Linked DNA regions of Homo sapiens. The protein of the gene in region 2 interacts with the protein of the main gene of each other region in a biochemical or structural test. Each region holds a gene or a part of one and is shown on either strand. Other genes may lie near its edges.

Region 1 (7,041 bases), on a different chromosome or scaffold from region 2:
AATTTTTAAAAATAACATGAGTATCTTATTTCTTACAGATTCATAATAGAAAGTATGAATGAGATAATAAAATATTCCTATAACTTCACTGTAGTTTTTCCATTCTGTTCCTTGGATCTCTCAAAAAAGCATGACAGATTTTAAATTATATCTAATTCCTTTCTTGTCCTTCACTCTATTTTGGGATTTCATTACAATCACTTCAAGATAATACAAAGCAAATGAAAGTGCGGCTGATTTCATTTTTACAAATATCATTAAGAAATTAAACATTTTATGTTAGCAAAGTACTTGGTCAAGTAGAATAAATGCTCTCTACATACCATAAGAATTTGAAAGTAAGGTTTACCTCCTTAATTTGAATAACTTTTTTTTTTTTTTTTTGAGATAGGGTCTTCCTCTATTACCCAGGCTGGAGTGCACATAGCTCACTACAGCCTCAACCTCCCAGTCTCAAGTGATTCCCCAATCTCCACCGCCTGAGTAGTTGGACTACAGGCACACACTACCACATCCAGCTGATTTTAAAATTTTTTTGTAGAGATGAGGTCTCACTATGTTGCCCAGGCTGGTCTTTGAATGCCTAGGTGCAGGCAATCCTCCCACCTCAGCCTCCCAAAGTGCTAGGATTACAGGTGTAAGCCACCACACCCAGCCTTGAATAACCTACTTTTAAAAGACATATGATTGAATTATACATATTTCATAGTCCATATACATTATATAGTCAAAGAGTGGACTATACACTCAATATACATAGTATCTTATCCAACTGCATGTCCTTAAAGAGCAGGTTATTCAAGTATGCAGTATATTAATCATTAATGGATATTTAAAAATCTGTTTCCCATGAAAGTTGTACTGTTTTCAACTCTTTTAAAATATCATATGGTATATAGTTCTCCACTAGGAGTACACATTTATCTATTTATTTTTTTAAGTGCCCATTCGATTTTAAATAAACTGGGCTATCCTACATTTCTTCTGATAGGAAGAAAATAACCTGAATAGGAAAGGCACAGAGAGGCAAAATGGAGTAATTTGAAAACAAAAAGGGGCTGTTATACTGCATGCATCTGAGAAGGAAAGAATGACTAGCTACATAGTTCTTCATAGTGAGATTATCAATTCCCTAGTTAAAAAGTAGAACATATCCACAAAAGGGAGCTAGTGTCAGCTACTAATTATTAGTATCACACTTAAGACATGAAACATGAGATTGTAGAGAATATATATGTTACTGAAGTTGTGGAACTTGTGGTAACTTTAAATTGAATTATAGTTCTAATGTTTATTTGGAAGTTAACACACAAACAAATTTTGGTTTCTGATAGGAAATCTGTAAAACAAAGCATTTGGAGTGTTTTATCCTTATCACTTAGCTACTATTGAAACGGATTAATAAAACTAATCTGTTTTAAATCTACTCTTAAAACACATAGTAATTGTTCTTATTTTCTCTCTCACACTTGAATCTGAAAAATAAAAATCTAGGCCAGGTGCGGTGATTCACACCTGTAATCCCAGCACTTTGGGAGGCCAAGGCGGGTGGATCACCTGAAGTCAGGAGTTTGAGACCAGCCTAGCCAACATGGTGAAACCCCGTCTCTACTAAAAATACAAAAATTAGGTGGGTGTGGTGGTGCGTGCCTATAATCCCAGCTACTCAGGAAGCTAAGGCAGGAGAATCACTTGAACTTGGGAGGCAGAGGCTGCAGTGAGCCAAGATTGTGCCATTGCACTCCAGCCTGGGTGACAGTGCAAGACTCTGTCTCAAAAAAAAAAAGAAAAACAAGAAAAAGAAATAAAAATCCACTTAGAGAACACTACCACTGCATTGGGTTGTCCAGGAGTTGATACTGGTGGGATCACAGGCCGGGGATAAGATGGTCCAGCTGTGGCCTGTAGGGGCGAAGGTGCTGTGGGAGTGGCTGTGGGGGCTGGAGTTGGTCTGGACTCGGTAATCTTGCCCGTTTGTTTCAACTGGACAAGTTTGAGAGCATCCCTGGAAATAAGAGCAAAGTAGATAACCATAATTAGCAATAAGGAATATAACAGAACTTTCAGAAAACGCAGGTGAGATGTGGAGAAAAGATACAGAAATATACAGATGTCAAGGTTATAATTAAAAACCAGTAATTTGAGCTAGAAAATTAAATCCTGTCTCTTACCTGGTCTGCTGACCATTATTTGTCACGTTCTAATATTTGCATATTTTCAAAAGCCAAACAATTAAAATGTTATTAAAATTGGGCATAAGTAGTGATTTTTAAAAAGGAAATTAGTCTTTTTTTCTGTGCAGTGGACGTTATTTGGTAGATGAACAATTAATTAAACCACTCTCATCCTTTATACTCATGAAATAATATTCACATGGCATTCAAAAAGTGTCAAGTTTATTGTAAATATGGCTTTCACCAGGATACTTCCTACATCATTGTTCACTTATTGTTTATTCATTGTTTATTATAGTGCAAATCAGCTTATTTATGACCAGGAAATCAAACCATTTTTAATTTTGCTAATATGCCATCAGTACAATCTAATATAACAAATCTAACCTATGATATCTTTTAGAATGAAAAATAACTAGTTACAGACTTGCCTTTGTATTACTCTGTAAAACAAAGGTATTTTTGTCTTGTAAGAGGATATAATTAGATTACTAAATATGCTAAGCCCTCAACTCACTATGCTAAGTTACAGTGGTATTAGGCAATATATTTTCTTAAAATAATTTTTGGAACATTTTAATATCCAATAAGTATTTTGGAAAGTATTTTTTCCAATTTAAGAAAAAAAATTGTTTTATATAATCTAAAAAGAACTTCAGGATGACACAAAATCTAAGGAAAAATTATTTCTCAGTTAATATTTTGGTATTATTTTTCCAAAAATTTGATGAAAGATAAAAGCTAGCACCTGTTGAGCATATTTGAGAAGACCCCTTTACTTATGGCAACATGGTAGGAAGAATTCTGAGATGGCCCCAATATTCCTGCCCCTGGTGTACATGCCCCATATCATCCCTCTTGACTGTATCTGGCCTGTGAATATGATGGATGTCACTCCCATTATTAGGTCCTATTATGTGACAAAATTGGTGGCATTTTATAGATATATGAGGCTCCAAATCAGTTGCATTTGAGTTAACCAAAAGGCAAACTACCCTGGAGAGGGCAGATATATCAGGTAATCTCTTAAAAGAAATTAGGCCTTCCTGGAAGAAGAGACTTGAAGTAAAGAGATAAAACTGCTGGCCCGGGAGAAGCAAACATGCATGTTGTGAACCGCCTATGGAGACCACGCATGGCAAGGCCCTGCACGTGGCCTCTGGGAGCTGTCAGTGGTTCTTGGCTGAGAGCTAGAAAGAAAACAAGGGCCACAGTCCTACAGTCCCAAGGAACTGCATTCTGTCAACAACCACATGAGCTTGGAAGAGGACCCCAAGCTTCACATGAGTCCCCAGCCTTGGCCAACACTTTGATTTCAGCCTTGTGAGACCATGAGTTCAGAACCTGGCCATGCTATGCCAGGACTTCTAACCTATTGAACTGTTAGAAAACAAACAGGTATTATTTTAAGCTGGTAAGTTTACTGTAACTTGTTATGCAATAATAGAATATCAACACAAGCAGGAACAGTCTAACTGGGGTGCAAAAATCTGTATCGTTAATGCCCGAATACATCTATTTAAAAAAAAGGTTGCTGACACTAAATTGACACATTTTTAGCATAACTATTACTTATTAGCATATTTAGTAATATGTAATATTTAGTTATGCTAATAATATGCTAATAGCTAGCTAATATTAGTTATGCTAATAGCTAATATTAGTTATGCTAATAGCTAATATTAGTTATGCTAATATTACATATTTAGCATAACTATTACTGCTACTTTATTTTTTAAAAAGCAGTTTAGTTTTATCTCTGTAGTAATTAAGGTTCTTGGGTAGGTTAATCATAAAGAAGCAAGAACAAAATTGCTTCTTCTTGCTCACAAAAACTTGTATTGCTGATTTTATTTTTTTTTTATTTTTTAAAGAGTCTCACTCTGTCACCCAGGCTGGAGTGCAGTGGCGCGATCTCAGCTCACTGCAACCACCGCCTCCAGGGTTCAAGAGATTCTCATGCCTCAGCCTCTTTAGTAGCTGAGATTACAGGTGTGCATCACCACGCCTGGCTAATTTTTATATTTTTAGTAGAGATGGGGTTTTACCATGTTGGCCAGACTGGTCTCAAACTCCTGGCCTCAAGTGATTCGCCAGCCTTGGTCTCCCAAAGCACTGGGATTACAGGTGTGAGTCACTGCACCTGGTCTTTTTATTGCTGATTTTATACTTACATACCTATGAAGTATAAATCTTAATTATTGTTTAGTAACAGCCAATGATTTAGTTTTTTGTGAGGCAGAAAATGGTTTTAATGATTTCTGCACATTAAATAATCAGACTAAACTTGGAGCATTAGGTAGACATTAAAAGCTATAAAAATTAGGAGAAAAATATACCACACAAATTCATTCTGGCCACTGGCAGAAATAGGCAGATAGGCAGAGGATGCTCTGGAAGTTAACTCAGGTACAACCTTCTCTACTGGGTTCCCTGAGAGAGCAATTCATTTGGGTGTGACATGAATTCATTTTGAAAATACCACTAAAACACACTAGGCACTTGCCTGTCATACTTACCTAATTTTTGATGCTGTGTGATGAATACAAACATTACTACAACTATGATTTAGGACACAGATGTACCAAAGACATTGGGGCTGCAGGCAAAGAAACTAAATGTGTTCTGCTTCTAATTGTGGCCTCGACACTGCTTTCTTAAAACAGTCACATGTACAAGCAAAGTCAAGTCTATATTCTTTGGTACAACATGTATTCTGAGCAATGCTTGTTTTAAGGCAAAATTAAAATAGCAGCCCTGATACCCAAGATTTTCTTCACAAATACAGTGGGCTGGAGGCATTTCCTTCAGCATTTGGAACTGATTTTTCTACCCAGACTTTTAGTGGACATGGTATGGAGCATGTCCTCACCGTGTCAAGAACGTGTGTTGGCTGGGCACAGTGGCTCACGTCTGCATTCCCAGCACTTCGAGAGGCTGAGGTGGGAGGGTCACCTGAGGCCAAGAGCTTGAGACCAGCCTGGGCAACCTAGTGAGAAACCGTCTCTACAAAACTGTTTTAAAAATTTAGCCAGGCATGGTGGCACACCTGTAGTCCCAACTATTTGGGAGGTTGAGGTGATAGGACCACTTCAGCCTAGGAGTTCAAAGCTGCAGTGAGCTATGAATACACCACAGCACCCCAACCTGGGTGACAGAGTGAGAGCCTGTCTCTCTCTTAAAGAAAAAAAAATTCAAAACGTTAAAAAATAAAAAAGTGTGCTAAGATATTTTGGGGACAGCTATGCCAAAGCCTGCAATTTTTCAACCATAGCAGAAGACGACATTAGGCTAAAATTTTTTCCAAAGCTCACCTTAATGATAAACTTAAAATGCAGGCATTTTTAGCAGTATAGAAAAGCAAAAATCCTCAATAATATATGCTTTCAGGATCCATTTTTCTCATGAAATCTTTTGTACTAGTTCTTATTTTGAAGACCAAAGGCTGATGCCTTTCTCGTGGAGAGTTAAGGAATAAAGGCAGGGAAGAGAAAAGGGTAACAGGGTAGAAAAGATGGCAATAATACTAAAAGCCTAACTCTTTAATACTGCTTCCTTATGGTATTCAGGAGATAATACCATTTTGTTCTTAAGAAATGTTTCATTAATATTATAACTTTCAACTCAGGTTTAAAAAAAGATATTTGCGCATCATATATGTATTAAGCACACATGGAAAGAAAAGGAAGGAAGAAACCTTTATTTCTTTATTTTACTGCTGTCACACTACTGAACACCATATTACCAAATTTAAGAGGCTTTTCTTAGATCCTACCATCCTTGACTTTTCCCACATTTCCCAGGTATCCTCCAACTCAAGGATTTTAACCTCTAGTTTCCCTATTGATGATCTCAATTATAACTATTGCTTTATTATCTACCAAATCTACCTCTCTAATCCCCAACTATCTCCTGAGATACATCTTCATCTCATTGATCCCAATACCTACATGGCTTCTAAGTCCTGACAATAAGCTTCAAACATTACTAACTCCACCAAAACAAATGCTTCCCAAATCCATTATTTCTATTTATGGAGACCAAACTATCATCACCTAGACCAGATCCAAATTCATTCCCTTACTTGTTGCTACTCTGGCCTACACTCCACATTTAATCTGCAAAGGCTTCTGGACTTTATCCTTACAATGTTGTCTGTATCAGGGATCTCCCTTTTAGTTCTTCTAACCACATTCAAGTATTCATTACCTCTTACATGGATTACTTTAGGAGCCTATTAATTTATCTCCTTATCTCATCTTTTTCTGCTCCAGTTTATCTTACACAAATTTGCAGAACTGATCCCCCTAAGGTGCAGCAATCATTATTTTACATTTCACCAAATCCTCAAAGATTAATGAATTAAATACAGACTCTTATTCCTAATCCTCAGAATTATGAGCAAGGCAAATCTACTTTGTTATAAAAATAGTTGCTTTCTCCCATTTTTACAGAGAGTGCTACTAAGGCACAGACTGGTAGAGACTAACAAGATTAAGATACCAACAGTAGACACAAATCAGGATTGGTGTGGGGAAAAAACTGGGATTAACTGGCAACCAAGGTTCTTAATTTTAATTTTTTACAGCTAAGTGTAACTTTTAAATCCTTTAACTAAAAATCCCATGGTCTGGGATGTTGCCTTTCAGTCAGCTCTCAGGACAGCTGATTTCCAACTCATGCAGTGTGGCACGAACTTCACAGTATGTGTGTGATAGAACCACATACATTCAGTTAACAAATTAGTAAGAGTGTAATACACATAAATGAGGATATCTAAGAATTAAATCTATATACTGCTTTCAATAAAATAAACACCCAACAGTAAGCCAAAGCTTTCATGAAGAGTAAAATAACCCAGTGGAAA
Region 2 (7,000 bases):
AGTCGCACTCAGGGTAGACTCCCAGCCAAACTCCTCAACAGGAGCGCAGAGAAAGCAGCCTGGGGCGAGTGCAGTCTTTGCCAGGACTCAAGAGGGGAGGATGAACATCCCCTTCTCCCTCTCCCCTCCTCTGTCCTGTGGGTCCCAGGGGGCGAGATGACACCACACAGGTCTGCCTCTCAGGGCCCATTCAAGACCTGGTCTTTGACCCATTCTCCAAGCCAGGACTCCCTTCACTTCCTGCTGCTTCCTCAGAGGGCACCTAAGTCCTCTTTGGGAGCTGAGCAAACAGGAACTGATAGGGACAGAGGACACCACTTCCACCAGCCAAGGCCTAGGAGCTGCTGACCTGGTCAGCCCTCACCCCAGCCAGGCAGAGAGGCAAAACCTGGGGGTCCCCGGCAGCTACGAGATTGGAAAGGTTCATCAGCCCTCCCCCATCTGCCCCAGGCATTGTCAGGGAATCAGTGGGCTCAGAACTGGCAGGCGGTGCAAGCTCTGCTTCCCTGGGCCACACTGAGGGCTGGGGCCAGCTCCCTGGATGGGGGTGGAGTTTACCAGCAGCCTGGGGACAGCATGTGTCCTTTTTAGGAAATGTCCTTGGAGGAAGTGTTCATGTGTGGCGCTGGTCAGCAGCTAGTCCCGCTTCCAGGACACTGGTCAGAGTTACCGATGAGGCCTGGGGGCTCCCGCTTGGAAACCCCTCCAGCTCCTCCCATCTGCCCAGACAGAGCGGCAGATGGCACCAATGCATGCTGGCTCCCTCATTCCTGCCCAGGGGCTGTGGCTTACGGCCAGCACCCTGTACCTGGGACTCAGCCCTTATCCCCCCTCTGCTATCTGTGCTGGGAGAGGGGCTTCGGAGGGAAACAGATATGAGGACACTGGCACCATCTGGGCCTGGTGGCAGGGCCATGGGAGGTTGGAAGGCACCCACATCCTTAAAGCCATCAGTAGCTATAGTGGGTGCCCACCTGCATGTGAAGGGGAGGCAGTTCTCAATTTATTTCAATAAATCCTTATGATGTGCCAGTGACCAGAATTTCTGTCTGCTCCAGTTGTTGGGTTGGCCGGACTCTGCTGGGCCCTGAGTATGGTGGGACAACAGGTCTGTCACCAGGTGCTGGGCCATCCGGCGTTCTGAACAGATGGCTTTGCCCAGTGTTTTACTCACAGTCCTGAGCTGGGCCGGACGTCCCCGGTGCGTCATGTGGTGGTCACAGGGCACCGCAGTGTGCGTGTGTACGTGCGCACGTGTGGGTCCCCTCCCCCAGGGATGCAGCCAGGCCAGTCTCATTCAGTCTCCTCTTTACTGTGGGTGTGGGTGTCACTGTCACTGCCACAGCCACTGGGAGGGACACACAGCTTTAACCCCTGTGTGCTTAGGGGAAGGGTGGGGGCATTCAGGGTTATAAAACTAACTATATACACAGAAGGTCCTAGGGAGAAAGCCACCCTGAGCACACATGTCTGGGCACAGTGGGGGCTGGGGGCTGGAGCTCAGGCAGGATGGACTAGGCTTGTGGAGGAGCGGGTGGGCATGAGCATGTGAGGACATGCTGGGAGGGCTCAGGAGGTGGCACAGACATTGCCAAGGCCACTGCAGGGCCTCGAGCAGCTTGGCTGGATGGCAAGCTCTCGGTCTAACAAGGTTCTTCCACTTTAGAGTTGGGCCCTGTGAGAGCCACCCCCTCCGCCACCGACCTTCAAGCCCTGAGCGGAGGGAGAGGCTGCAGGACCAGCCTCATTCCCCACTCACGGGTGTAACTCCTTTCCCCACTCAGTCCCCAGGTCTGGAGGGCACCCACCCTCTTCCTAACACTTCAGCAGGCCAAGGCCAGGGTGCCTTTGTGGGCTGGGGGAATAAGGCAACGGGACATCCACTTGGAAGGCCTGTGCTGTGGAGGGTGCTGAGGGGGACCCAGTACCCCTGGCAGAAAAGTGACAGCCCTGGTCTCAGAGAGGAGGACTGCCATGGGAAAATGTCTCTGGGACACCCCATCAGGGTGGAGACATCCCTAACCCTCAGGCATCGCCCACAGAGATAGGGAGGCCACCGAGGGGTCTCCACAGAGATGGACTGGCACTTAGGGACCATCACAGACCTATCACCGCAGTGACTTCCATAGAGACAGAACCTGGTCATCAGGGAGAACCCACCCCCTGCTCCCCCAGGAGGATGGTGAGGGGCACCACGGTGGGGGGACCCAGAGGCGGCAGTCCGTCCTCTCAGGTGCAGATGCACGGCGGCCCTTAGCTGACGCGGTACGTGGACGTGTTCTTGGGCTCCGTGCTGGGCACACACCAGTCGCCGGCCTCCTGGATGGTCTGGTAGTGGCGCCAGGCTGACTTGTTGTAGACAGGCAGGCGCTCCACCGAGTCCGTGGACAGGGCCTGGGGAGTGTCAGGGTCAGCCCCTCCCACCTCCCTGTGCCTTGTCCACTCCTCAGCAGACCACCCCACCCCAGCTCAGCGGCAGCCCAGCTGCCAGACACGGGGGCCTGGAAAGACCACAAAAGGGTGGTCCCTCCTGTGTCCCGCTCCTGCCCATTCAAGCAAGCAGCTCCCTCTAAGGGAGGGAGAGGGAGGGGGAGGAGGCTGGGCTGTGTGACCCTGAGCAAGTCACGGACTCCGGGCCTCAGTCTTCTCCTCTGAACTGAATGGCAAGACCTAGGGTGTCCCCTTCCTTCTGGGTCTAACAAGTCAAGGGTTCCCAGCACAGGGGTCTTAATCATAGACCACAGACTCCCCTAAATTCCCTGACAAGCAGTGCGTGTCTGGGGGTTGAGGGTTCTTCAGGTTGAGGAACTGTAGCTTTGCTTGGATTCTCAGAGTCTGGGGCCAGGGAAGGACTGGGGGGATGGAAAGGAAAGCTCGCAGCTGGCCAAGGCTGCCCAGGTCCTATCAGCAAAGCTCTTCTCCAGCTGGGCTCTGCGGGAAGGGCCCTCACCTTGAGATAGATGACAGCATCGGTCCCAAAGCCTTCCATGGAGAAGAGCTGCAGGTCTCCCTGGAAGTACTTGGCGTAGAGGCGGGAAATGGGGAGCCCATAACCAAAGCCAGCCTGCAGCGGGGCAGGAAGGCAGTGAGGATGAGGAGGCTGGCAGGGGCCTCCTGGAGCTGCAGGGACTGATGCAGGGAGGGAAGGGTGTGGAGCTGGGGTCACATGGCAGGGGTCCCAGAGCTGGGAGGGGACATGTGGGAGGGGACACTGAGGTAAGAAGTGTGTGTGGGGTGAATGGGGCAATCATGAATGCGGGAGGGAGGCTTGGGCAGAGAGAGGAGTTCCGCTCAGGGGCCAGGAAGTCAGAGCAGGCCCCACGGCTCCTTTGAGTCTCAAGTTTTCTAACAGGGAGGTGCTGACAAGTTGGACAACACCAGGAGAAAGGTAGAAATTGGGGGTTTGGGAGCTACAGAAGAGAGGGAAGATGGAGGAAAGGTGACAGAGAGACATCCGACAGGTGAGATCTGTGCAGACTGGGGAGATGTGGGAGGTGCGGGGGCCCAGATTCAAGACAGGTGACTGTCACAGACGGCCACACAGAAGCTGAGTGAGCAGGGAGATAAGGAAGTGAGTGAGGAGAGAAGCCTCCCTCAGGAGGTGGGAGGGGCTGGGGTGAAGCCATCTCACCAGCGGCGTTCCCCCGGTGCCAGGCTGGGGGGTGGGTGCTGTGGAGTACATGTAGCTGAAGAGTCGCTCAATCTTCCTCAAGGGAACACCCCCACCTCGGTCACTCATCTGGGAGAGATGGGATGTGTCAGGGATTCTTTACAGCTCATTTTCCCCACCCCGCCCAATACCCCTGACCTTCTCATGGTCTTCCCCACCCCCAGGATCTGCCCACCATGTAGGAGAAAAGGAAAGCCCGTCTCCTGGCAGGAGGGAAGCCCCCACTACTGCTCCCTGGTCCCCAAGGTCAAAGGGTCACATACCTTGATGGACAGATCTTCCTCACCCAAGGCCACCATGACCTTGATGGGTGGGAGAATGAGGCTGGACTCATGGCTTTCCACAGTCGCCCTCATGGCATTCTGCGGAGGGGCAGAGGTAAGAGATGCATGGGAGAAGCCAGCCCTACTCACGCTCCCCGCAAAGCACCGGCTCCCAGCCTCCTCACCTTGAAGAGCTCAAAGAGCATGTGGTAGAGGTGGGAGGGGACGTAGACCATGTGAATCGGCTGTTTGGAGTTGGCTGCTACAGGGCAAGTCAAGACCAAGGGTCAGGAAACCGTCAGGAGGTCACTGCTCAACCACCTTACCCAAAGGAGGCACCCCCTCCCACAAAGTTCTGAGTACATGGCTGCCCAGCGAGAGACTAAATCCCCAGCCTCCCTTGAGCTGGGGTAGCTGGTGACTCATGGAAGTGATGCATTCAATTCTTGGGCCCTGCTTTCCACACCCTTGTTCCCTTCCTCCAGGCTAGAACTGAATCAGGGGTGGGGAGCCAGCCCTGACCTGTCCAGCAAGGGGCTGGCGAGAGGGAAACCTCCCTCTTAAGTAAGCCACTGGTATTGGGGTTCTAGGAAAGCAGCCAAGCTGATACACCATCTAACATGCCCCTCCTCCCTACCCCTGTTGAGTTACCCCATTTTATTTCCTTCCCATCACTTGTCATGATCTGAGATGGTCTTGTTTATTTACTTGTTAATTGGCTGAAGGCTCCATTCCGCAATCTCCCTAGCACCAAAAATGTAAGGTCCACGAGAATGGGGACCATTTCTGTCTTGCTTACTCTTTCATTCATTCATTCACTCAATTTCTTATTTGTTTGAGATGAAGTCTCGCTCTGTCACCCAGGCTGGAGTGCAGTGGTAGCATCTCAGCTCACGGCAGTCTCAGCCTCCCGGGTTCAAGTGATTCTCCTGTCTCAGCCTTCCAAGTAGCTGGGATTATAAGCATGTGCCATCATGCCCGGCTAATTTTTGTATTTTTAGTAGAGACAGGGTTTCACCATGTTGCCGAGGCCGGTCTCAAACTCCTGACCTCAAGTGATTGGCCTGCCTTAGCTTCCCAAAGTGCTGAGATTACAGGTGTGAGCCACTGTGCCCAGCCCAAATATTTATCAAATGAATTAATAATATAATAACTCTGCTTCTCCCCTGTCTAGAAAACAGTCCATCTCCTGACTCCCCGTCTCACCTTGCCCTGCCACGTCCCCAGCCCCAAGACAGACACATACACAGCCCCGCTCACTCACCATTGATCTCCTGGATCTCCAGGTCAGGTGAGGCCATGTAATACTTGTCACACAGGAGCTTAGCCATGTCGTAGGCATCTGAGAGAAGATGGGGTCATTCAGGGCATGGGTGGCCCACCCAGCAGGCAGTCCTCCTGACATTGATACTGGGGACCACCAGCATTAAATCCATGGCACCCCTTACTGAGGAACGAGTCACCCTCTGGCCAGGTAAGCTTGGAGGGGTCCCCGGGGCTTCTCTGCGGGCCAGGCACCGTGGGAATGGCTCACCTTTGACCACCTCAGAGACGTTGCAGTTGGGGTCGATGCTGCCGATGTGTTTGGGATGGGCTGGGTTGGTGCTGCCATCAAAGATGAGGGCTGCAGGCAGGAAGGGAGGATGCTGTTGGCTGGGCTGCAGTCTGTCCCAGCGCTCCCTCTTCCCCCGGGCTTTCCTCCTCTTTCTACTTTCACCTCCAATGCCTCTGTAGGCTCCAGTCCTAAAGCTGCCCCACTCCCCCGCTTCTGTCCTCCCTTCCCTGACCCCTGACCCCTCCAGCCCTGGCTTAGGCCGTTTTTAAACCTTTGCAAACCTGAAACAGACGTCTTTTCAGAGGTCTCTCCCCACATCACATCTCCACATTGCATTTATTCTTTTCTTTGACTATAACATTCTAAGAGAACTCTTACCACCTTGCTTTGGAAATTATTTGAGCATGAGGAACTTGTTTAATTTATGACTGGCTACAACTTCTCAAAAATCATAGTGAATCCTCCTGGAATAAGAAACTCTAAACAACAAATTGTTTTTGAACATAATGAGAGTTTTTATAAATACTAAATTAAACATTCTTTTAAAGATGTGACATAATTTTACATTTTGCAAACACTGAAAACAAAACGTTTTGAAATGGAAAATCAATGAGAAAGAAAAATTTTATTTTTCCATGTTGGAGCCATTAACTCCATAGTTACTGGAGTAACTATTCAAAGACTCCCTTTGTGGGGTTCTGAAGAGTGGTCTAGGTCCCCTCAGCAGCCCGGCCCTGGGCCCCAGCACCGCCCCCCCCACCGCCCGCTCCCCGCCGCTGTGGCCGGCACCCACTGTGCTGGTTGATGAGCATGCGGATGGAGATGCGGCTGAGGTAGAAGCGGTCCAGGAAGTACTGGATGTTCTGGTTGGAGACGGGGTCATCGCCGTAGGTGTCCTTGTACTCAAGCACGCCTTGTGCCATGGTGGGCACCACGTCGTTGTGCCGGTTCCGGATGGTGACCAGGGCGTCAGTGAACCTGTGGGGCAGGGCAGATGTTCACATGGGACACCCCCAGACTCTTCTCCGCTTCTGACTCCCCTCTCCACGGTGTCTTCACCCGCTCTACCCTTCCCAATCCGATGGACTCCCAGTGCCCTCCCTGCTCCTCCCAAAGCCCACTCTGATCTTTTAGCTGCCTGCCGGCAGGCTTCCCACTCGAAAGCCCAGAGTTCTCATCCTCCCCATGGCAGGGCCTGGGTCTTGCCCACCGGGCTCAGGGAACAGTGAGAATGGAGTCCATGTCTCTCCCATCAAACTTGGGGCTCCCTGAAGCAGAGTCTGTCTCCCCACTCAGACTGGATGTTTCTGAAGGCAGGGGTCTTTTCTTCCATCCTGCTGTACTTCTGCCCCAGGGGCTGCAACCCCAGATGCCCCTGGCCAACACCTGCCTTCCTGCCCCACCCAGGGCCCCCACTCACTGGCTCAGGGTGCGATGGTCCTCGGGATCCTTGTCCAGGAACTCCATGATGTCCAGGAGGCTCTGGACATACCTGTGTGGGGGCGGGAGGGG
Region 3 (7,041 bases), on a different chromosome or scaffold from region 2:
TGGTGACAGAATGAGACTCTGTGTCTCAAAAAAAAAAAAAAAAAAAAAAAAATTCTAGACACAAGCTAATAAATTACATACCAACAGTACAAACCTGAGCTACTGCTTTTTGTGTTAAAAGGTTGAAACTGATAAAGCCACTGTTGGATTTGAGAGCCTGGAGGAGTGTTATATGGCAAAGATACTTGTTGCTGAAGGTACCAGGGATGTTCCCATCGGAGCGATCATCTGTATCACAGTTGGCAAGTGAGTAGTGCGCTCATAATTTGTGGAACTTCATTGCTTGGTGGAGTATTTTACCCAGAATTGAGAATTAGGAGTTAAAGACTATTTTTTAAGACTACTTTTGTGAAAGCTGAATCTGCCCATTATATTTATGCATTCTTTCTCTTCCTTAGGCCTGAGGATATTGAGGCCTTTAAAAATTATACACTGGATTCCTCAGCAGCACCTACCCCACAAGCGGCCCCAGCACCAACCCCTGCTGCCACTGCTTCGCCACCTACACCTTCTGCTCAGGCTCCTGGTAGCTCATATCCCCCTCACATGCAGGTGAGGCTCAGCCTCTGAGTTTTTGCTCTAGGTGATTACTTACTTACTCACTTTTTTTCATAGATGGCTACTACATCTTGGAAACTGACATTAAATGTGGTTAGGTCTTGTCATTTGGGAGTATATAGGTTTAAACATGAAGATTGACAACTATTCTTCCTGGTTGTTATTTCCAGTTATAAGAACTTGAACAGTTCCTGTAACCTTTCTCAGCCTCAGTGTAGTACACAGGGTAATGCGTGGCACTTTTCATTCAAGAACATTACATTACAGATTTTGAGGATGATTTTTACTAACATCTATTCCCTGTATAATTAGAGTTTATAGCAGGCTGTGTTAGTCTGTTTTACTTTGGCATGAAGAAATACCTAGGGCTGGGTAATTTATAAAGAAAAAAGGTTCATTTGGCTCAAGGTTCTGCAGGCTGTACAAGAAGCAGGGCGCCAGCATCTGTTTCTCTTGTGGCCACAGGAAGCTTACAATCATGGTGGAAGTTGGAAGGGAAAGGGGAAGGGTGGTGTGTCCCATGAGAGAGGGAACAAGAGACAGAGGGGAGTGGGTAACCAGGCTCTTTATAGCAATCAGATTTCCCCTTAACTCATTACCATGGGGCATGCAGCAAGCCATTCACGAGGGATCCTCCTCCAATACCCAGACACCTGCCACCAGACCCCATCTCTAACATTGGGGATCATATTTCTTTTTTTTTTTTTCCACATACAAAAAAACTTTATTTACACAGTCTTGGATTCTGAATCTCCAGTACTTCCAGGGTCTCTTGATCAAATGGGGCAGCAGCAGGCAGGGAAGCAAACACAGGGGCCAGTCCAGATTATCTTACTCAAGAACACCACCAAGAAGGGAAGGCCTAATTCAGTCTTGGTCTGGACTACATCTCCCCGCACTTTGAGATCACCACAGTAGTTTGGGCTTATTGTTGGGGCCTGTGGGAACATTCTGAATCTTTCTCATCACTAGAAGTCCATCAGTGATTTTTCCAAACATTACATGCTTCCCATCCAGCCAATCACACTTAGAGCAGGTGATAAAGAACTGACAGCCATTTGTACTGGGACCGCTGTTTGCCGTGGAAAGCAGGCCTGGAGCTGAGTGTCTAAGTTTAAAATTTTCGTCTGCGAATGTCTCCTGGTAAATACTGGCGACTCCAGTACCATCTCCATTAACAAAATCTCCACCCTAAATCATGAAATCCTTTATGACCCTGTGGAAAGTGCTTCCTTTGTATCCTATTGGAACCCCATCTTTTCTGAATTCTCTAGTGCAGAACTACCCAAAGTTCTCGGTCGTCTTAGGCACAACGTCTGCAGAGAGCTCGATCTTTGTGCGGCCAACTTCCTGACTGCCATTGCTGACATCAAAGAACACCATGGGGTTAGCAGGGCTTGAAGTTGCCACCACCATGGCTCTGACCCGGAAACGGAAGTCGGGGGATCATATTTCAGCATGAGATTTGGAGGGGACAGACATCCAAGCTGTATCATAGGTGTCAAGTGCTGTCTGTTGAATGAAAGTCCCCAGTTGGTGTTCTTTTGACATGTGGTGATCTATTTTCCAAGAGTGGGTGAAGTAGTCCAATAGTATTAATAAATGAGAAAACTGACAAAAGTTAAGTGTAAGATACACATATGTAATAGTGTTGCATCAAAGTTGAAGGCAGTGAATGTAATCACTGTTGATTGTGCTAACTAAATCAGTTTCTAAGAAACTAAGTCAGTTTATTAGGTATTAGGGTTATCGTCTGTATATTTGTGTGCTTTAGATGTTAAAAGTGGATAAAAATCCAGCCGTCCTTTTCTAAATAATTCTGACTGGCATTTCTCCTTAATCTAGTTTATTTGTAGAAATTTTTGTATAGGAATCTTTTTCTCCTTTGGAAATAATGTTCTACTCCATGGTCTGTTAGTAACAATCATTTAGGATTTTTTGCCAGGTGTTCAGTTCACACATGTATTACATGCTGTTCGGCAAATTCTATCTCATGATGTAAGACTGACTTAATTTTCCTCTACTTTGTGTCTGTAGCTTTGTGTGCATGTGTTAGGGTTTTACCTTAATTATTCTTTAAGATACTGAATTGGATTCTGAATCTCTGATAGTATTCTTTAAGATACTGTATAGAGATTATTGGCTTCACTGTTTCTTAAGAAGCAGATGAAGATGGCAAATTCTGCACAAAAAAAGCACTTACAATTTTTTTTCTAAGGCTTGTCTTACTTTCCCCTCTCTGGAAACATCTTCAATTGAAGTTATTTTCCTCTCCGCATAATCCTGTTGCTAATCAGATACAGAAGACAAAGAGGATAGCAAATGAAACCAAATTCAGTGGATACACAAGCCATATAAATAGTAAAGCAATTTTACATTTAGATAGGCATTCTGATGTTTGGATATTATTGGGGTGGAAATGGCTATTATAAAAACAGGGCTTTTTTTACCCCTGGTTTTTTATTTTTATTTATTTATTTTTTGAAACAGGGTCTCACTCCATCACCTAGGCTGGAGTGCAGTGGCATGATTTCGGCTCACTGCAACCTCTGCCTCCTGGGTTCAAGCGATTCTCCTGCCTCAGCCTCCCGACTAGCTGGGAATACATGCACATACCACCACACCTAGCTATTTTATTTTTTGAGATAGGGTCTCACTCTTCACCTAGGCTGGAGTGCAGTGGTGCAATCTTAGCTCACTGTAGCCTTGACCTCCTGGCTCAAGCCATCCTCCCACCTCAGCCTCCCAAGACGCTGTGACTACAGGCACGTGCCACCATGCCCAGCTAATTTTTTTTTTTTTTTTTTTTTAAGAGATGAGGTTACATCATGTTGCTCAGGCTGGTCGTGAACTCCTGGGCTCAAGTGATCCTCCTGCATCAGCCTACCAAAATGCTGAGATTATAGGCATGAGCCACCATGCTGGTCTTTCCTGTTTTTTTTTTTTTTTTTTTTTTTTTTTTTTGAGACAGTCTTGCTCTGTCACCATGGCTGGAGTGTAGTGGCACGATCTTGGCTCACGGCAACCTCTGCGATTCTCATGCCTCAGCCTCCTGAGTAGCTGGGACTACAGGTGGGTGTCACCATGCCCAGCTAATTTTGGTATTTTTAGCAGAGGAGGGGGTTTCGACATGATGGCCCGGCTGGTCTTGAACTCCTGGCCTCAAGTGATCCGCCCCTCCCAAGTGATCCTTGGCCTCCCAAAGTGCTGGGATTACAGATGTGAACAGCTGTGCCTGGCCTCCTGTTTTATTTTTTTGAATGATCATCATGCCACTGCACTCCAGGCTGGGCAACAGAGTAAGACTCCATCTCAAAAAAAAAAAAAATTATCAAATAAAATTCTGTGTAAGAATTCTGTGTACATATATTATATACAACAAGTTGTTTTGAAATATGTATATATTGTGGAATGGCTAGATTGAGCTAATTTATATATGCATTACTTTATAGACTTATCTTTTAGGCCACTTAAAAATCTACTGTCAGGAATTTACAAGAATACAATACATTGTTATTAACTATTGTCACCAAATAATGTTTTTTTTTTTAATATGGAATGCTTCACGAATTTGTTGTCCTTGCGCAGGGGCCATGCTAATCTCTATATCGTTCCAATTTTAGTATATGTGTTGCTGAAGCGAGCACAGAACAGTTCTTAATATTACGTTTTTATCTTGGAAAGATATCTGGTAAGGTTGGGACAAATGCAGTTTCCTGTGGGTAAAAAATAGGTAGATGCTAAGTACAGAGCGCAGTAAAATTTTAACAGAATGGTTTGGACCAAGGTCATTTTGTGAAAATGAAAAACTTCTTGGTTAAAAAAAAATGAAGTCTGGGCGCGGTGGCTCACGCCTGTAATCCCAGCACTTTGGGAGGCCAGGGCGGGCGGATTACTTGTGGATGGGCGTTCAGAGACCAGCCTGGCCAACATGGTAAAACCCCATCTCTACAAAAATACAAAAATTAGTGGGCATGATGGCACCCGCCTGTAATCCAGCTACTCGGGAGGCTGAGGCAGGAGAATCACTTGAAACCAGGAGGTGGAGGTTGCAGTGAGCCGAGATTGCGCCATTGCTCTCCAGCCTGGGGGACAGAGCAAGACTCTGTCTCAAAATAAAAATAAAAATAAAAATAGATGAAAAGATGCTCCATACTTAGATGTTGAGAAATTAATTTTGACTGTCTGAAAGAAATCTTTCCCATGTGCTTGTTGCATTTAACTTGGAGTGTGTGTTAGAGTGTGGGCGAGAGTATAAGAGTATGGGTCAGAGTATGAGATTTGAAGGATGATTTACCTGGTGGGAAGCTATTGAGGTGTGAAGCTTTTGCTGTGGTGAGTATTTGGATTATCATAGTCACCATCATTCTATGAAACCACATAAGTCTGCCAGACTTTTATTATGTAGAAGTCTTCCTGGTATTAAGCAATAATATGTGTTTGTTTCTGCAGGTACTTCTTCCTGCCCTCTCTCCCACCATGACCATGGGCACAGTTCAGAGATGGGAAAAAAAAGTGGGTGAGAAGCTAAGTGAAGGAGACTTACTGGCAGAGATAGAAACTGACAAAGCCACTATAGGTGAGATTTCTTCAGCTCTTAATGGTTGAGGCACTGAGTTTCCCAATGAGGAAGAGGATTGCCATTCTTTCCTATAATGAGTGAGTGATAATATGAAAACTTTATAATTCTTAGGATTCATTTTCTGGGACAGAATATTTTATTTTTATTTAGTTATATGTATTCTTTAGTTTTTATTTATTTATTTGTTTATTTGCTTATTTTTCAGACAGGGTCTTAATCTGTTGCCCAGGCTGGAGTGCGGTGGCAAGATCATAGCTCATTGTAGCCTTGAACTCCTGGGCTTATGCCCAAATGATCCTCCTGCTTTAGCCTCACAAGTAGGTAGGACTACAGGCCTGAACCACCACACCTAGCTGATTTTTTAAATTTTTTGTAGAGATGGGGTCTCACTTTATTGCCCAGGCTGGTTTTGAACTCCTGGCTCAAGCGATCCTCCTGCCTTGGCCTCTCAAAGTGCTGGGACTCCAAGCGTGAGCCCCTGTTCCTGGCCCAGCATAATTTATAACAAAAATAATGCGTAGTCAGATTTGTCAGTTCCATCCTGTGCTCACTGAATCAAAGGCAATCAATCTGTCAATTCACAGATTATTTTTAGGCCCAAGTTTGCTTCTTGGCCTTATTATGTTACTGAGAAGCTATATCAGAATTGCTGCTGTCTAAACTAGGCAAAGGAAGTCAAGAAGAAACAGGAGAAAATCACTTCCATGGCAGGATAATAGCAAAGAATTTAAGATGACTTTGAGGGAAAACTGAAACCAGGGTTGAGATTGTTTTCATAGTTTGAGAATGACTGATAGAATGTATGTGTGTAATATATATATGTTCAGATATGTCATATGTCCACATATCTCCTTCTTAATTCATTTTTAGGCTAAAAAAACCCATATAGACAATAATATATTTATTATTATTATTTTTTTTTTTTTTGAGACGGAGTCTCGCTGTGTTGCCCAGGCTGGAGTGCAGTGGCGCAGTCTCAGCTCACTGCAAGCTCCACCTCCTGGGTTCACGCCATTCTCCTGCCTCAGCCTCCCGAGTAGCTGGGACTACAGGTGCCCGCTGCCACGCCTGGCTAATTTTTTGTATTTTTAGTAGAGATGGGGTTTCACTGTGTTAGCCAGGATGGCCTTGATCTCCTGACCTCGTGATCCACCTGTCTTGGCCTCCCAAAGCGCTGGGATTACAGGCGTGAGCCATGGCGATTTGTAGTATTATGAATTTCTTCTCTCTGCACCCCCGCTTTTTCTTTTTTTTTTTTGAGACAGAGTTTTGCTCTGTCACCCAGGCTTGAGTACAGTGGTGCGATCTTGGCTTACTGCAGCCTCCGCCTCCTGGGTTCAAGCAATTCTCCTGCCTCAGCCTCCCGAGTAGCTGGGACTACAGGCATGCACCACCATGCCTGGCTAATTTTTTGCATTTTTAGTAGAGATGGAGTTTCACCATGTTGGCCAGGCTGGTCTCGAGCTCTTTAACCTCAGGTGATCTGCCTGCCTCGGCCTCCCAAAGTGCTGGGATTACAGGCATAAGCCACCGCACCCAGCCTCTCTGCTTCATAATCACCACCAAAGGGAAGCCTTTCCCAAAGATGTAATGGGAGGTACTGGGCATCCTCTGCCTTGGTTGTTTTCAGATTGTGTTCTTCAAATCCCATCATTCCTTTAAGGCACCTTGAGGCAAAGGGGGAATTAAAGAGCAGGACCTTACAGCCCTGCCTCCCTGCCTTACTTCCAGCAGAGCAGTTCTTTTCTATCTTTTTGTATTTTGTGCTTCCCCATAAATTTTATTTGAAGAAAGGATTCTGTTTCTTAAAAACACAGAAACTTTGGAAACAGTAGTTCTGCTTCACCATTTAACTTGAATACCAGTGTCACTATAGAGACTAGTCACTAGAGAAGTGTTAC

Evidence for each region.
Region 1: the proteins of PDK2 (region 2) and PDHX form a complex in vitro, tested with the Homo sapiens proteins (one study listed by BioGRID).
Region 3: the proteins of PDK2 (region 2) and DLAT form a complex in vitro, tested with the Homo sapiens proteins (2 studies listed by BioGRID).

The regions. Positions count from the first base shown.
Region 1 is NC_000011.10:34,961,604-34,968,644, reverse strand, and holds part of PDHX (pyruvate dehydrogenase protein X component, mitochondrial isoform 1 precursor), read right to left. Parts: intron 2,006-7,041; coding exon 1,831-2,005; intron 1-1,830.
Region 2 is NC_000017.11:50,105,351-50,112,350, reverse strand, and holds the end of PDK2 (pyruvate dehydrogenase kinase, isozyme 2 isoform 1 precursor), read right to left. Parts: intron 6,981-7,000; coding exon 6,909-6,980; intron 6,467-6,908; coding exon 6,282-6,466; coding exon of another isoform or gene 6,199-6,281; exon of another isoform or gene 5,980-6,198; intron 5,558-5,979; coding exon 5,468-5,557; intron 5,276-5,467; coding exon 5,198-5,275; intron 4,196-5,197; coding exon 4,119-4,195; intron 4,033-4,118; coding exon 3,934-4,032; intron 3,740-3,933; coding exon 3,632-3,739; intron 3,065-3,631; coding exon 2,951-3,064; intron 2,395-2,950; coding exon 2,254-2,394; 3' UTR 199-2,253; downstream 1-198. UniProt on the Homo sapiens protein: Kinase that plays a key role in the regulation of glucose and fatty acid metabolism and homeostasis via phosphorylation of the pyruvate dehydrogenase subunits PDHA1 and PDHA2.
Region 3 is NC_000011.10:112,028,394-112,035,434, forward strand, and holds part of DLAT (dihydrolipoyllysine-residue acetyltransferase component of pyruvate dehydrogenase complex, mitochondrial isoform 2 precursor), read left to right. Parts: intron 1-121; coding exon 122-246; coding exon of another isoform or gene 247-250; intron 251-398; coding exon 399-552; intron 553-1,268; exon of another isoform or gene 1,269-1,998; intron 1,999-5,010; coding exon 5,011-5,137; intron 5,138-7,041.